Homo sapiens: one gene and its partners. The protein of the gene in region 3 interacts with the protein of the main gene of each other region in a pairwise test. Each region holds a gene or a part of one and is shown on either strand. Other genes may lie near its edges. The genes, in order: NOD2, CFTR, LURAP1L, ATPAF2 and SDCBP.

Region 1 (3,520 bases), on a different chromosome or scaffold from region 3:
GCTCAAACTGAGCTTGGGGGCCGGGTGCGGTGGCTCACACCTGTAATCCCAGCACTTTGGGAGGCCGAGGCGGGCGGATCATCTGAGATCAGGAGTTCAAGACCAGCCGGGCCAACATGGTGAAACCCTGTCTCTACTAAAAATACAAAAATTAGCTGGGCGTGGTGGTGGGTGCCTATAATCCCAGCTACTTGAGAAGCTGAGGCAGGTGAATCGCTTGAACCAAGGAGGCGGAGGTTGCAGTGAGCCAAGATCGTGCCACTGCACTCTAGCCTGGGCAACAGAGTGAGACTACATCTCAAACAAAACAAAACAAAACAAAAAACTGAGCTTGGGGGCAACTTGCCTCCCTGTGAAATGGGCTGGAACACCTAGGCCCTAAGGTTATTCTCTCTTCCTACAGTCCCAGGTTCTAAAACTCCCAGTTCTTGTCAAATGGACTCCAGTTCACACTAGGGCATGACAGGATAGGAGAGAGGCTGCTGGAAACAGCACAGGTGCAAGCCTGGGTGCCTAGCAAACAGAGGAAGCCCACCCTGGGGCTGCAGGTTGGGGTACTCCCCTCCCTGGCAGGCCCTAGCATGGTCCTACAGGGAGCAAGAGCTCCGAGGGACCTAGCACAGCCCCTCTTATCCTGGGTGCCTTCCTATCCTTCCCCATTTCCTTCTCTTTCTTAGGTCAGGGGTCCTCACCCCTGGCTGTACATCCCCTGGGAAGCTTTTTAAAACTCCTGATACCTGGGCCTTGCACCTAGATATTTGCATTTCATCAGTCTGGGGTGGGAGGCCTGGCAATAGTGTTTAGAAGCTTCCAGGTGGTTTTAATATGCAGCTAAAGTACAGCCCTAGCGCCCCCTGAGGATCAGAGGGCTTCCTGTCACCAGCTCGTGGGCACTGTCCTCCCCTAGCCCCAACATCCCAAACTTCCTGTTTGTCAGGCATAGACCAAGTATGAAGGTGGCAGTCAAGGGCCGCCCACTCTCTCCCTGGCTTGTCCTCCCCACTGGAGCTGGGCTGCCTCTGGGGCCTCCTGGCTGAAGAGTTTCACCTGCCCCTAAATCCTCAAAAGTCCCAAGCCCCTCCATGCAGGTCCCTCTTCCTGGAATCCAACCTACCCCAGGAACTGCAAGGAGGTGTTGCCTCGGAGCCCCTCGGCCAGCACTTGGGCTCCCGCGGCAGTGATGTAGTTATTCCCCAGCCTGGAAGGGAAGACAGAGGAGGCTGAGAGAACACAGCGGCAGGCAGAAAAGGAGGGCCGTCTGTGCCCTGGCCAGGGAAACACAGGAAGAAAGCATTGAAGACCTGCCCGGGAGGCAGCAGCCACATCAGGTGCCCTCGCTGCTAGGTCTAGTTTACTCAGCGGCTCCCACAACTTCATTTTCCCCCAGCAAAGGGAAAGGGGCAGCGGGACGCTGTTTGCACAGCAGTGTGACAATTCCAGGCAGGAGCCACAGTAGGCAGCTGTCCTGGGAGGTGGTTTCCCCGGGACAGCGAGGGTGACTCAGGGTCACACCTTTCCCTCTGGTCTCAGCCGCCCTCGATCCAGACCCCATCGTGCCCTCTGCAGCCTTCCCAGATCTGTTGTTGCTACAGGTAGGCTTTACCTGTTGCACAAGAGCGCTGGGCAGGTCCAGGTGGCTGGAGGGAGGGGTGGGGCCCACTGAGCCTTCCAGAAAGGAAGGAGAGAGGGAGGGCCAAGGCTAGGGGTGGGGGAAGATCCCAGCAAGGAAGGCTCCTGCTGCAACTGAATCCAGACACCTCGGAGAGCTTCGGAGAAGCCCCAGAGCTCTCACCTGCAACCCTAGGCTTCCTGGGATAACTATACGCTTTCATTCTTTCAAGGAACGTCAAGCCACTCAGCTCACAACAATCCTATAAGGCAGATATTATTGTATCCTTGGAGAAGGGGTGTGGCAGCTAGGAGAACTCGCCTTTCAGGTCTCCAGCCTCAGCTCCTTGGAGGTAGCCAAGGGCCCCAGCTGCTGTGCTCCAAAATCTAACATCCTCGCATCTGCACTTGCCAGCCCCTGCCTGAGACATCAGGCTCCCCTGCCTGGTGAATTTGGTTCAAGAACTCCTCATCAGCCTTGCCAAGATGTCTTAGGACTGCACTGAAGTCCAAGGTGCCCAGTCTCAACCTTCCTTCCTTCCCTCTCTCCTTCACTCAGGGACACACCTCCCAGCCTCCCCCAGCTCCCTTCCCCACTTCCCCTTTTAGGACTTTTCCCCAATAAATGGGTGGCACATTGAATCCCTGCTTGGAGGACCGGACTCACATAAGGAGAAACAAGCTGAGTGCTTGTGTGATTTACCCATCATCTTTCAGCCACTCGCTTACTATATAAAGCCCCTGCCAGACGGTGCAGCCCTTCATGTGGATTAACTTGCTTGCTCATCACTACAGCCTGTGAGGTAGCCAGGGTTATTACCTCCATTCTACAGAAGGGGAAACGGAGGCACACAGACATTGGGCTGACCTGAGGTCACGCAGCTAATGAGGGTTCAAACCTCGGGCAGTCTGGCTCCAGAGCCTGTGCTCTCTATTACAATGATATACGGTAATCCCTGCCCCCTGCTTATCCGCAGCTTCGCCTTCTATGGTTTCAGTTATCTGAAATCAACTGCAGTCCAAAAATATTAAATGGAAAATTCTAGAGATAAACAATTCATACATTTTAAATTGCATGCTATTCTGATCACGTGCCATCCAGCTCCATCCCACCCAGGACGTGAATCAGCCCCCCGTCCAGCGCATCCACGCTCTATACGCTCCCATTTGGTAATCATCAAGATCGTCTGCTCCTGACATCCAGCTGCCGACCTCATTGTTGCTCAAAGATTAGGGATCTCTGGGAGCAGATGATTCTCCTCCTGAAGTGTGGTCAGGTCAACAGCAGCCCAGCGCTAGAGCACAGTGCTGCATGCGTCATCCACCTCACTTCCTCCCATCACACAGGCATTTTACCACCACACATCTTCCCAAGAAGAAGGGTGAGTACAGTACAAGAAGATATTTTGAGGGAGATGGAGAGAGTCCACATTCACATAGTGTTATTATAGTACATTGATTGTTATAATTGTTCTATTTTATTATGAGTTGCTATTACTCTCTTACTGTGCCTAATTTATAAACTACACTTTATTGCAGGTGTGTAGGTATTGGGAAAAGCATGGTATGTGTAGGGCTTGATACTCTCCATGGTTTCAGGCATCCACTGGGGTCTTAGAACATCTCTCCTGCACATACCGGAGGACTACTGTGTTGGCCACAAACTCAGCCTCCATTTCTGAAACTAGCACCCTTCTCAGGGATGGGCCAGCCAGGTCTGGCCACAGCCTATTCCAGGCTTGTGAGTCTGAGGGATCAGGCAGTGGTAGCAGGACTGAGTCCTTTGTACAAATTGGCACCTGTGGTTCTGATCTCAGTAGCCCTTGCCGAGACTGAGCTATGTGGCCCGCCATTTTAAAATGGCGGCTCCCATCCACAAACCCAGCCCAAGAGGTAAAAGAATAGATGGAAG
Region 2 (3,520 bases), on a different chromosome or scaffold from region 3:
GTGTGGTTTGGGAACATGAACACTGTCTCAGAGAACAAGGAAAGAAACTTAAGCAAAAAGTATAATTTTAAAAAGAGTATAATAATAGTGTTGCACAGTCATTCCTAACTTGGGTTTCTAAACCATCTACAAAAGCAGTGGTGAATGAATAATTTTAAATACAGTAGTACAAAAATACTTTAAAAATTCAATGATGAAGCTATCCAGACCAACCATATAGTCTGATTGAAAAATATGCATTTGATTTTTTAAACAAAAATGAGTAAATGTGCATCATTTCCTTTAATTTCTCAGTCCCGCTGCAATGGGATTTGTGCCCCTGATATGGTATTAGCACATAAGCATTACTATAATATTAATGGCTCTGCATTCTAGAAAACCAAAACAAGAGAAATAACACAACTAAAATGTGGTCTTTGTACACACTAATAAAGTATACAAATGTGTGGCAATATTTATCAAGCAGAAAGACAGAAGGCAATGATAAACACTTTAGGAATAAGAAAGGTGCTATCACTAAATAATGTGAAAAAAATTTAAATAATAGTATGAAAATGTTATGCTGCTAAATTTGAGAACCCAATATAAGGAAGGAGTTCTTAATCAAGATACCAAAAGCACAAAACATAAAGGAAAAGACAATAAATTGAACTTTATTAAACTTAAAAGCTTCTTTTCATCAAAAGACTCTATAAGCCAAGCCACTGACTGAGGGATTATGTTTGAAATGTATAGAGCTGATGATCAATCCATAATTCATAAATTCCTACAATTTAATTAAGGAAGAAAAAACTAGGTGACAAATGAGTAATCAACATGAATAAGAAATTAATGTAAGAGAACAGCAAAAGCCAATAATTATGTATGCAGCTTCCCTATATTTTTAGTAATCACTTCACATCTACCAGACACCAAGTGTTGTTGAAGATACATAGCTATGAGAATTCTTGTACTCTCTTGATGGGGATATATATCAGTACAACAGACTTGAGGACAATTTGGCACCACTCAGTTAAGCATGGGTGAATCCTATGACCCAGCAATACAACCCCTAGGTATTTCTCCTAGAAAATCCTGAATAAGGAAACAGGTGAAAGAATGCTCACTGCAGTATTAGATCTTCATAGTGGCTATCTATGAGAAGGAAAGAAGAGATAAGGATTTAATGACAGATACACAGTGACCCTCAATTTATCTGTAATGTTTTATTTCTTAAGCTCAATATACGGTATATAGTTCTTCCTCATGCTATTACTCATACTTTGTTACTTGTCTGAATTTTTTTCATAAAAGTTAAAAAGATGATAAGACTTACCAAGCTATCCACATCTATGCTGGAGTTTACAGCCCACTGCAATGTACTCATGATATTCATGGCTAAAGTCAGGATAATACCAACTCTTCCTTCTCCTTCTCCTATAGATGCACAAAAGACGTAAATGAACCTCATGTTATTTCTCTCTTCTGTGAACGACTTTATTCACACTTCTCCTAGGGCACATATCACATTAAATTTACATTTCAATTTTATGCTAATTTTAACAATTTTTAAATCTCAGTTCATCACAGCATCTACTAATAGAATAATGCTCTGCATATAGTAAGTATTCAACCAGGATTTTAAATCAAAGAGCGATTGAATATTAGGAAAGTGTTGCCCTTTTTAAAAAATGTTACTGGTATTGGAGGTGTTGTTGGTAATGGGTAGGTACCATATTTGTCTCTTCTACTATTATTCTATAAGTAATAACGGTAACATATATTAGAATGGGCAATGGGGAAAAGAGATCCTGTATCCAGATGAGCTGCTTTACAAAGAGACCAAAAGCAGGGGAAGAGTGTCCAAACAGCATCTGCAAGATGTTTAGGTGTGTTCTGTGCCTTTGCAAGGAGGACCTTTGCTAATTGCATGCTATTGGGAAGTAAGTGGACTTAGAATTTCACCGGACAGTCAGAAAACTAACAGTTCTGCCATTTGGAAAGAGAAAAGATTACCCTCTATGCAAAAAAAAAAAAAAAAAAAAAAAAAGATTACTGTACCTGGGAAGAACAACACTTAAGTGTTAAATTACAGTAATTTTTTTTTTAGGGCTAAAGAGGACAGCTAATTAAAATTCATGTGTTCAGTATTATGGCCATAGAAATTCTCTAAGAGGAATGTTCTTAAATTATTATAAAGTTAGACTATCAAGTCCCAATCAAGAGTTCTTACATCTGTAATGCATGATAAAATTGTCAAAAGATTCTACAATTGGGAGAAATAATTCATCTTATTATTAATTGAAATTTTTGTTTCTGCAATTCCTCTAACAGAAGGCATAATATACACAGCATATATCTGCATGTAGTATTAAATTATTTTCATATAGGCAAGATTTATCTAGACCCCAATATATTACTGTTCTGAAGGTTAAGCTGAGAAGATAAAATTTTAATAATAAGTCAGATAACATTTATTTAGTATTTACCATGGACCAGGCACTATACTAAGTGTTTTGGACAAATTATTACATTTACTATTCACCCCACACCTATGGAATAGGTAATATTATTGTGTCTATTTACACTTGAGGAAAATGAGGGGCTTAGATAGTTAATTAATGTTTGCAAGTTAACACAGCTGAAGACCAATTGAGCCAGGGATAATAATAGCTGGGTGGCCAACATCCACTCCGGCTGAGCATCTGATTTGATTGGTAAGTTCTGTACTATAATGATTGTTAAATGTTTTGATTATTGCCCCTAATAAATCAAGACTCAATCACACTCAACCATGTTATAGCATGTGTTATATTGGTTTGAATTAATTGTTAACAAATCTTCATTTATGTAATTCAGCCTTCTTTGATCTTATTTTCAAATAACTTAAAAGAATTTTTTAAAGTTGCTTAAAATTACAGTACTGATGAGGATTAGTACATTTGCCTGCCCATGTATATTCCTTTCATAGAGTCATTTCCCACTGCCCTAGCTGAGAGAACAACAAAGGTGGTGAACCCACTATCCTCATAGCAGCAGAGTAGACTGCAGTTGGACCCCTGAGCCAAAAGGAAGCTGTTTTCTGTTCTCTCCAGGACTTTGAGTTTGTACAGAGGAACTCTCCTGTAAATTCAGGAGGCCAGAATGGAGACACTACATAAAGTCAATGTGGCATAGCCCTGGTAGACCAGAAAAACCAGTCTTCAGAGAGAGAAAGGAATGAAGCAACCACAAAAAGGAATGGACCCAGGACAGATATAGACTCAAGAAGAAGAGCTGCAGCTGACTCTCTTGTGCCTGTTGCAGCTTCTTTAAGAGTCGAATGGCACCACCTTCTCGGTGTTCCATGAGGCCTTTCTGTAACTCCAGCAAATGCCTGCTTTCGGTTTGAGTAGAATTCTGTTCCTACAATCAAATGATCCTACAGATTTGGCATTGATTTGGCATTTGCTCTGCCAGTATTCACTGTCACATATAAGAAGTTATTTCAACACTTATCATAAATACTCAGAAATTCAAATTCTTAAATTAGAGAAACAAA
Region 3 (3,561 bases):
AAATTTACCAGATTGTATTCACGATCTGAAACTGATCTGAGAACAGAAATGGCCTTTCATGTGCATGGCTTGTTCAAGGCAAAGGGTAGGTTTTAAAGAAGTTAGAATTTGCCTTTGATGCCTCACACTCTTGCAGCCTGCCACTTCTTTGTAGTTGAGGATATTCTCCTTGCAAGGTTGTGGACATATGGTTACATATTTCATTATCTTCTGTTTGAAATTGGTTGGTTACATTTTTAATTTTTGTTATGAGCTTACATTTGCTTTCTCATTCCCATTTTATTATTTAACATCAATAATTACCAAAGAGGTTATTGAGTGTTATTGTTAGGAATAAGACAGATGCAAGTTTAAATCCTGGCTTTGACACTTACTGGGAGACTTGTCTCAGTGGCCTACCTTCTATGTGCCTCAATTTCCTCAAACATAGGATGATGACAGTCCTCACATTATGAGATTGTTGTGATGAGGATTATATCAAGCGACTTATGGGAAAAGATCAGTGCAAAATATAAGCCCTGATATATTTTAATTAGAAATTGAATAATACATGCCTTGGAAATAAACAATAATAAATTCAACATGTGTAGTAAATATATAATAACAAAGGAAATTTGGGTGAAACATTTCTCAGTTATAAGAAGGAAGATTTTTTGATTTGTATTATAGAGTGTTTAGTCCGGAAACATTTATCATTACAAAGAACAGCATGAAATCTTAATTAGATTCCCTCACTAGGAGTTATCAAGATAAAAGAAATGCAGAGGATTAATAACATTATATTTAAAGTAAATATCCACTGTCTATGTGCGTTAAATATTCCATTTCAGAAAACTTAGAGATTATTTATTTATACTAGGATGAATGTATATCATATTAGACTTCTTAAATGAATAACAATTCTGCTTTAGGGAAGCAGTAGTAGGATGCTGATAGTAGGCTATCGGGATATTTATCTGTCTTTCTATCCATCGGCTTGTATGCATCTAAGTATTTATACATCCTATCAGAATCACAAAATACATACAAGTAAATGCCAACAAAATCTCAAAATGCAATTAAATTTAGGACATTTTTGCCTTGAATGGCCTCCATACTTAATCTCAATTATTCCTTGAAATTTGGGAGAATAATACATTTTATTACACAAATAAACATATGATTTGAGTTAGAATCACTGATGACAAAATGTTAATCTAAAGTACCAACACAAGGGTGAGTTGGTTGAACAGAATGTGTATAGTTGGGGACTTTCAGATGATTGTCATGTGGGCGTGTGTGACTAACAGTATGGTTGATTATACACTAGAATGTTGTGGTCTAGAAATAATGCTTAATTTTGTTCCAAGCATTTTGTTCAACCTGATATGCAAACAGTAATATATCTCAATATCTTCTGGAAGATGAAACCTTAAGTCATTTAAGGACGCAAGCAGCAACATTAACTGTTATCAGACTTTGGTTTATTGTAAAATTTAGCAAAGTTTTTCTTGTAATCCCTGACCCATTGCTCTGAAAACAAAAGCAAAAACATAATTATTGCTTATTCTTTTCCCCCTACTTTGTTTGTGCTACTGTAAAAGAAGGGAGAAAATCATTGTAATAAATAAAAAATAGAGATGTAACAGAGAAAAATAAATCAGCTCAGATGAGAAGTATTAGGAGCAACAGCAATACCATTAAGCAGTTTCAAAATCAGCTTCTTTTAAAAAGGTCATCTTATTAAAATAAAAATCACACCAAAAATATAGCAGCGGAGAAGAAGGATAAATACAAGTTCATTGCACACCAGTCCCATGCAAAAAACTGTCACTAGCCAAAGCAGTAGTATTCAGAATCCAATTTAGGACGCTTGTGTAGTGCCTGTGAGTCCTCTATGAGGGAGCTGTCACTGAATTGGTCCAAGTCTGAAGGGGTCTGATGGCCTGGGACATCATCCGCCAACGTGTCCAGATAACTTCCCACGGAAATGCCATCCAGCCCATCACTGCCATCGTGTAGGCTGTTGTAGCTGCCACGTAAGGAGGTGCTCTGACTCTCCAACAAACTGCACAGGCTGCCACTGAGGCTGCTGCCTCTGCTGGTAATGGTGGCTTTTTCTTCGATCATCCACTTGATGGACTCGATGCTCTCATTGATTACAAGCAACTGGCGCATGAGCCTGACGTCTGTGGCTCTGAGGTTAACCTATGGACAAAGAGAGAAGAAAGATATTCCAGCCATTTTACACTCTCGAAAGGCCTCAAATTCATCTGGGGACTGTCTGCTGCAGTTCAGAATTTTAAATTCACAGAATAAAATATAAGTGGACTGGTTGTCAGGAACTTTTTGATAATTGCTGACTGATGGTAGGAGTTATAATAAAAAAAACTCACTTCCTGCCAGATGCATCAGGCTCCAAAAGGCACAATAAAACCCCTGCTGCATCCCTGACCCTAACCAAGTGGCCTGAACATATCATACTGAATGGCAGGTTCTCTACTACAAAATTTATTTTCTCTTTGGCCAGATTAAGTTTATTAATGTTTACGTTGGCGTATATACGTGGGTCCTGAGTCGTGGGGAGAAAAGGAAGGTGAACAAATTAAGGAGTCATCCTCAGCATCGTAGAAGCCTCTAAAAGCCTCTGATTATGGAGTGATAATGTGCCAAGCACCATCATAAAAGTTCAGCATTCATTAGCAAAATCTAATAACACTGTATGACAGGTATTATTATTTTTGTCTTCATTTTACACATGAAGAAAGATAAATCTATAGAAAAGAGTTAAGAGTACAAAAAAGACCTGTATTCTTTATGACTATATCAACATAGACAGTGCTGAATAATGCTTTTGCTTTTAAGAACCAAATTGCTCTAATATTCCCTGAATCCAAAGGATGGGTGATACACTAGGCTGATCCAATTTATGAGACGAAGTGTACAAATATTTCTGTATATCTGACTATTTGTTTCAGATATATCAGGGGCACCCCAATCAAAAGTGGGATACCAGATGTTGGGAAGGTCTGAGAATTCCCTTATGTGCCTTCTAGGTGTGTGGTCCTTTTTTTTTTTTGGGGGGGGGGGGGGGACGGAGTCTCGATCTGTCGTCCAGGCTGGAGTGCAGTGGCGGAATCTCGGCTCACTGCAAGCTCCGCCTCCTGAGTTCACGCCATTCTCCTGCCTCAGCCTCCCGAGTAGCTGGGACTACAGGCCCCCGCCACCACGCCCGGCTAATTTTTGTATTTTTAGTAGAGACGGAGTTTCACCATGTTGGCCAGGATGGTCTCAAACTCTTGACCGCGTGATCCGCCCGCCTCGGCCTCCCAAAGTGCTGGGATTACAGGCGTGAGCCACTGCTCCCGGCAGGTGTGTGGTCCTTCTGATAGCTCTAAGTTACTTCAGGGATATCTATCTCCACAGCCACAAAGCAGGGTCTCTTTGCAGGTCCCACAGTTTACTGTAAACATTTGCTAATATCAAGAGGTGGTGTTTGGGGAGGTGGTGCTGTAAGAACTCCCATGATTGTTCTGTTGGAACAGAAGAGATATGGCTCGAGTACAGAGCCTGGCAGGACCA
Region 4 (3,520 bases), on a different chromosome or scaffold from region 3:
GGATGGGACATGTGCAAAGCTCATCTCTGCACTCTCCAGCCATTTACTGTCTAGTAGGAATACAGACACTAAACCAGGCAAACAATAAGGTGACTTCTGTGATGGGGCAGGCACGTGGAACGATTAGTCAGAATTAAATTGCAACTTGAAGGTGAGGCAGGAGGTACCAAACTTTCTGATTGATTCAATTTTTTTTTTTTTTTTTTGGCAGAGCAGGGCTGTGGAAGTAGTTTCCAGATGAAGAAACAGGTTGCATGAAGGACCAGGGTTTCTAGAGAGCAGTTGTGGACTAGACAGATGGTCAGAAGGAGAATGCAAGATTCTCTAAGATGCTAGAGAGGGCAATGGGGCCACATATGGGGGACATGTAGATCACTGCAAAGACAGCAAAGGGAGCCAAGTAAAGGCTCCACACAGGCATACAGGAACTTGATCTGGGGCCGGGCATGGTGGCTCATGCCTGTAATCCCAGAACTTTGTGAGGCCGAGGGGGACAGATCACTTAAAGCCAGGAGCTCAAGAGCAGCCTGGCCAACATGGTGAAACCCTGTCTCTACAAAAAATTAAAAAATTGGCGAGGTGTGGTATTGCCTGCCTGTAATACCAGCTACTCAGGAGGCTGAAAATCAGTTGAACCCAGGAGGCGGAGGTTGTAGTGAACCAAGATTGCGCCACTGCACCCCAACCAGGGTGACAGAATGAGACTCTGTCTCAAAAAAAAAAAAAAAAAAGAACATGATCTGGACAATTCGTTTGGGGGATCCATGTTCCCCAACAATGTCACATAAGACAAAATGTGAGACCACCAGAAACCTATGAAGCTTCCATGTTCTCGGTGAATACATGGTTAGCAGACATCAATGGTAACCCTGTCTTTAAAGATGAAAAAAATCAGCCTAGCTTTGTAGGATCATGCAGAACTGGCCTTTCCTTTAGAAAGATTACCAGCCTCAGGAACCACAACTCCCACAGTGCACCAAGAAGAGGAAGTACTGGTTTCAGAGCTGTCTCAGTGCCTTTATCTTTTAAAACAGTGCCATCTGGTGGGCCTTAAACCTTAAAGGTGAAATTCTAACTCCAGGGCCATCTGTAATCCTAGGGCGGCTCTAACCAACTCTTTTCAGGTATCAAAATTCTTCAGCCCAAATACATAAAGAACTCTTACGACTCAATAACAAAAAGACAAATAGGCTGGGCATGGTGGCTCGAGCTTGTAATCCCAGCACTTTGGCTGGCTGAGGCAGGTGGATCACTTGAGTCCAAGAGTTCAAGACCAGCCTGAGCAACATGGCAACACCCTGTCTCTACAAAAATACAAAAATTAGCCAGGCATGGTGGCACGTGCCTGTAGTCCCAGCTACTCAGGAGGCTGACATGGGAGGATCACCTGAGCCTGGGAGGTTGAGGCTGCAGTGAGCCATGAACACACCCCTGCACTCTAGCCTAGGCAACAGACCGAGGCCCTGTCTCAAAAACAACAACAAATAACCCAATTTAAAAATGTTCAAGTCTGAGAGACCGAGGTGGGAAGATTGCTTGAGTCCAGGAGTTTGAGACCAGCCTGGGCAACATAGCAAGACCCTGTCTGTACAAAAAAATTTTAAAGTCAGCTGGGCATGGTGGCACACACCTGTAGTTCCCAGCTACTTTGGAGGCTGAGGTGTGAGGCTCGCTTGAGCCCAGGAGGTTGAGGCTGCAGTAAGCTGTAACTGAGCCACTTGCACTACAACCTGGGTGACAGAGCAAGACCCCCTCTCTTTAAAAAAAAACAATGGTCAAGGGATCTGAATAGACGTTTCTTCAAAGAAAATATACAAATAGCCATTAAGCACGTGAAAAGATACTCAACATAATTCATCAGAGAAATGCAAATCAAAACCACAATGAGATACCACTTCAAACCCTTTAGGACAGCTGTAATAAAAAAGACAACAACAAGTGTTGAGATATAGAGAAACTGGACCCCTCAAACACTGCTGGTGGAAATGTGAAATGGCACAGCCACCTTGAAAAACAGTCTGGCAGATCCTCCAAAAGTTAAACAGAGTTACCATTTGACCCAGTAATTCTACTCTTAGGTATATGTCCAAGAGAAATGAAAACATATGTCCACACAAAAACTTGTACATGAATGTTCATAGTAGCGTTATTCATATTAGCCAAAAGGTAGAAACGACCCTGTGTCCACCAATGGATGAATGGATAAGTAAAATGTGGCATATTTACACATACAATGGAATATTGTTTGGCAATAAAGAAGAATGGAGTCATTGATACATGATACAAGGTGGATAAAACTTAAAAACGTTTGGTCATGGTGGCTCACTCCTGTAATCCCAGCACTCTGGAAGGCCGAAGCAGGAGGATCACTTGAGGCCAGGAGTTTGAGGTCAGCCTGAGCAAGACCCCATCTCTACAAAGCACTAAAAAGCTAGCCGGGCATGGTGGTGTGTGCCTGTAGCCCTAGCTACTTGGGAGGCTGAGGCAGGAGGATCACTTGAGCCCAGGAGTTTGAGGTTACAGTGAGCTGTGATCGTGCCACTACACTCCAGCCTGGGCAACAGAATGAGACCCAATCTCTTAAAAACAAAAAAAAACAAAAAAAACCCAAACTTTAAAACATTATGCTAAGTGAAAAAGTCAGTCAAAAAAGACCACATTCTATTTATATAAAATGTCCCAAACAGGGAAATCTATAAAAGAACAAAGGAAAGTAGTAGTTGCCAAGGGATGGAAGTAGTAAGGGTGGATGATAGCTAAAGGGTGCAGGTTTCTTTTAAGGGTGATAAAAATGTTCTAAAATTGATTGTGGCAATGGCTGTACAATTCTGTAAATATACTAAAAACTATTATATTTACACTTCAAGTAAATGAATTGTATAGCAAGTAAATATCTCAATAAAGCTGTTAAAAAAATCCTTCAGGCCAAATGTATAACATTTAGCAAACTTTTTCTGCAAAGAATCAGATAGTAAATATTCTAAGCTTTGCAAGCCATACAATATCTGTTCCAACTATTCAACTCTGCCACTGTAGTGAAAGTAGCCATAGATGATATGTAAATGAATGCATGTGGCTGTGTTCCAATAAAACTCTATTTACAAAAACAGGTGGCAGGCTGGACCCTGATCTACAGACTACATAATCTCCCTCAATCCACACCACTATTCTATGAGGATGACAAGGCAGCTAATGCCTCGGAGGTGATAGAGAAGCTAAACATCTTGTCTTGGTGACAGACAACTGGTAAATAGCAGAGACAAGACTTCTAGCCTTGACTTCATCAGGCAGTTGCATTCAGCCAGATACGCTGAATAGATAGGTTTCTCCAGAACACCTGCCACTCTGGGAGTCAATAGACCTCTGATAAGCTGGTGCAGAACTAAACTGCCACAACAACCTCATATAGGTCTTCTTGTTGCAATATCTCCTTCTCCAACACCTCAGTGACCCTTTCGTAAACTCCTCCTCTCCTTCTGATAACCTTCAATGGCATGGCCATTCCTAAGTGGCCAAGTTC
Region 5 (3,520 bases), on a different chromosome or scaffold from region 3:
CTACAATCCTAAGCTAGGTCACATATTTCTATCACACATCTGTTACATTGTAGAATGATAAGCAAGAACTAGGTAGCACCCCATAAATGAACAAATGCCCTTTGGCCAAGTGAACAAATCCACTGCAACTATTACCTACAGTGGGGCCAAGGGGCCTATGAAAAGTATCTTTTCTCTTTAGGACAGAGGAAAGAACACAAGAGCAATCCTGGCGGAAGGAGCAGCAGTATACTCTATTCCCTGAAGATTCTGGAGAAAGGGCAGCAAAGTCAGAGCATCCCAACTAAGCACGCAGATGTATTTTGAGTGACATACAAGTGAGCAAGGCCATCATCGATGGCCTCAGCCCCCTGGGTGGGCAGGCAGGGCGGGGGCCTCCTGCCAAGATCAGCCTCCTCCATTTACAGCAGTGCACCACACTTATAATTTTCTATGTGGAAAGGCTGGATGCACTAAGCTAGAGATGTATGACTGAAACCGAATCCAATAAGGTAATGGCTAAAACTATAAATTGGGGTAAAGACTCAACATGTCCTTCACAATTATAAATGGTTCCTCAGAGAGTAACCCTGTTTCATATCTTCAGTATGTTAAGGTGAGAGGTAATTATAAAGTAAAGGCTGCCCTAATTAGAAAGAATATTCCATCTTTTTTTACTCAGAAAATGACATATTAAATTCAAATGTGAAGGATGTTAATAACAAATCTGCAAAAACCATCTCACCAGTTAAATACTGATCATTTGGTTTAAAAATGCACACACATCCGGGAGGCAGAGGTTGCAGTGAGTCAAGATCACACCACTGCACTGCAGCCTGGCGACAGAACGAGACTCCGTCTCAAAAAAAAAAAAAAAAAGGCACACTGACATTGACTCTCATTGGAAAGTTTTTTCTTAACCTTCACATCTGCTCTATTTAATTGCCACAATTCTATTATACAAACTATAATATATGTAGGCCAGTGAAATGTATTCCAGTTAGAATATTCAGAAAAGAAACATCTTTCAAAGTAATGTGGTCAGAAGTCCCAACTATGCCTCTGCAAAATAGAACATCCCCAATTGAAAACATTTAAGTTAGTAGATTTAAAATATTCTCAACTACAGATGCACTATTATAATTAAAGCATTTCCATTTCAAATTATTTTAACATTAATCACTTATTATGTAAGAGATTTAGACAAATTCAAATAGGTATTTAAAATACTTACATTATCTATTGATTTAAGCCTGAGTCCAATTTTTCCATCTTGATCCTTACACAAAATGACTTCACGAATCCCTTGCTTAATTTCTGCTCTACGAATTCCAACATCATTACCAGTTACAGGAGCCACCATATAGTTTATACTGGAAGGTCTTGCTACCAACTGCTGACAAAACCATATACAATGTGTCAATATCTAGAAACACTCTCCTTGAAAAAAACAATGATAATTAACTGGAACTTACTCAGTTTTGGCTTTCCAAAAAGCAATCCACAAATAATTTCCTTCCGATAAAGTTTGATGTCTATGAAAATGGCACTGGCTCTACTACTAATTCTTCACTAACTTATTCCCACACATATCATCTCTAATAGATTCAATGACTCTCTGTTGCCCTTTGAATTCACTGGCATTTGTTTCACCGGTATACTGGCTTGTCTTCATCTCAAATTTATTATCTTTGAACTTAAAGGCCATATACTTTTGAAACATTTTCCAGACGGTTCATGATGTCACGATCTTTGACAATCTACTTATCCTTTCAGAATTTCCATAAAAGGGGCAAATTTCTTACCTCACTGTTACTGACAGGATTAAATGAAAAGTGCATGTTGTATGGGCACTGGCACACATAAGACAGTCAACTATTATGTCTCTTCCCCTCTAGTAACCATCTATGGATTAACAAATCATATGCACAAACCAGAATGCCCCAGAATACCTACATTAGGGACCTGTGTCATATACCATGTTTCAAGTTTCTAATTCTTTCCAGTTTTCCTAATCAAAACTGGTTTATTTTAAGTGGAACCTTTCCCCAACCAAAAAGAAAATGGAATAATATTAGGCCACTAAAAAAAGGAAATCCTGCCATTTGGACAACATGAATAAATGTAGAGAATATTATTCCAAGTGAAATAAACCAGACACAGAAAGACAAGTACTGTCTGGGTCCCACTTATATGTGGAATCTGAAAAGAGTCAAACTCACAGAAATAGAGAGTAGAAGGAAGGTTGTCAGGGGCTGGGGTTGGGCAGGGCAAAGAATGAGAAAAATGTTGGTCAAAGTGTACAAACTTTCTCAGTTATCATATGAGTACGTTCTGGAGATCTAATGTACAGCATAGTAACTATAATTAATAATACTGTACGGTATACTTGAAAGTTGCTAAGAGTACATCTTAAGTGTTCTCACCACACACCAAAAGAAATGTAACCATGTGAGATGACAGATACGTTAATAACCCTGACTGTGGTAATCATTTCACAATGTGTGTTTGTGTGTGTTTATCAATACATCAAGTTGTATTGATATATACAGTTGAATATATACAATTTATATTTGTTAATTATACCTCAATAAAGCTGGGGAGAGGAAGATCCAGATGGAACATCAAGAGAAGAAGAATAAAATATGTGAAATGAAAAATTCACTAGATATGAAGAGATAACAGAAATCTCCAGCAACAAATTAATTTAAAATAGAACAGAAGAAAAATAAAAGGCGGCGCACTGAAGAACCCTGGAGATGCAGACACAAAAATGAAGGTTATATCACCCTTCTAGGTATTTGGGCAAAGGGATCTAAGCATCCATGTAGTGAACAAAGGAAGTTCTAAATTTTAACTACAGCCTCATGATCAGTTACTAAAATAAGAATCAGAGCAGCTATGACTCTGTTCTTCTTTGTATTTGTATATTTTCTGTAAATACAGCAATTAATCTTTCTGTTCCTCTATACCTCTTTTTACCTTTATGTATGAATTGTTGGTAGTGGTTAACTTTACACTTTTGCCTTTAAATTAAAAATATTCTGTTGGGAATGTGAATACTTAGAAGGGTAATTAGTATCATATAGTAATCAATACCATGATGACTGCCCAGAGATGGCCACATTAACTGGTATCATCCCTTTCTAGAGAAAGGGTGAGAGCAACTTCATTTATATTGAAGGGTACATGGCTTCATTTTGTACACCCCTGAGTTAAAAATGATTTTTATATTTTTAAAGATTGTAAATAAACAAATAACAATAAGAATATGTGATAAAGATCATAAGTGACCATGAAAGCCTAAGGTATTTATTATGGAGCCCTTTATAAAGTTTGAACTTTGATTTTATGAAGAAATTCATCTTTCAAGGAGAAACTATAAAGTTGTTGTTGTTGTCACATGAAATTCAAATGTTTGTACAAGTGTGTGGATATACTGAGTAGTCAAAGGAGTAGGTGGTAACAGATATTAAACTACTGTTTGTCAGCTCCAAATCCACCCTTCTAGACTCTACTTGGTGATGCTGGGCCTAACTGT

Evidence for each region.
Region 1: the proteins of LURAP1L (region 3) and NOD2 interact in a two-hybrid assay, tested with the Homo sapiens proteins (one large-scale study listed by BioGRID and IntAct).
Region 2: the proteins of LURAP1L (region 3) and CFTR interact in a protein complementation assay, tested with the Homo sapiens proteins (one large-scale study listed by BioGRID and IntAct).
Region 4: the proteins of LURAP1L (region 3) and ATPAF2 interact in binary tests that used the Homo sapiens proteins (3 or more experiments, as listed by UniProt).
Region 5: the proteins of LURAP1L (region 3) and SDCBP interact in binary tests that used the Homo sapiens proteins (3 or more experiments, as listed by UniProt).

What each region holds. Positions count from the first base shown.
Region 1 is NC_000016.10:50,717,603-50,721,122, reverse strand, and holds part of NOD2 (nucleotide-binding oligomerization domain-containing protein 2), read right to left. Parts: intron 1,199-3,520; coding exon 1,115-1,198; intron 1-1,114. UniProt on the Homo sapiens protein: Pattern recognition receptor (PRR) that detects bacterial peptidoglycan fragments and other danger signals and plays an important role in gastrointestinal immunity.
Region 2 is NC_000007.14:117,612,509-117,616,028, reverse strand, and holds part of CFTR (cystic fibrosis transmembrane conductance regulator), read right to left. Parts: intron 1,417-3,520; coding exon 1,316-1,416; intron 1-1,315. UniProt on the Homo sapiens protein: Epithelial ion channel that plays an important role in the regulation of epithelial ion and water transport and fluid homeostasis. Mediates the transport of chloride ions across the cell membrane.
Region 3 is NC_000009.12:12,820,012-12,823,572, reverse strand, and holds the end of LURAP1L (leucine rich adaptor protein 1-like), read right to left. Parts: intron 2,188-3,561; coding exon 1,813-2,187; 3' UTR 513-1,812; downstream 1-512.
Region 4 is NC_000017.11:18,032,649-18,036,168, forward strand, and holds part of ATPAF2 (ATP synthase mitochondrial F1 complex assembly factor 2), read right to left. Parts: intron 1-3,520. UniProt on the Homo sapiens protein: Plays a role in the assembly of the F1 component of the mitochondrial ATP synthase (ATPase).
Region 5 is NC_000008.11:58,573,755-58,577,274, reverse strand, and holds part of SDCBP (syntenin-1), read right to left. Parts: intron 1,376-3,520; coding exon 1,214-1,375; intron 1-1,213. UniProt on the Homo sapiens protein: Multifunctional adapter protein involved in diverse array of functions including trafficking of transmembrane proteins, neuro and immunomodulation, exosome biogenesis, and tumorigenesis.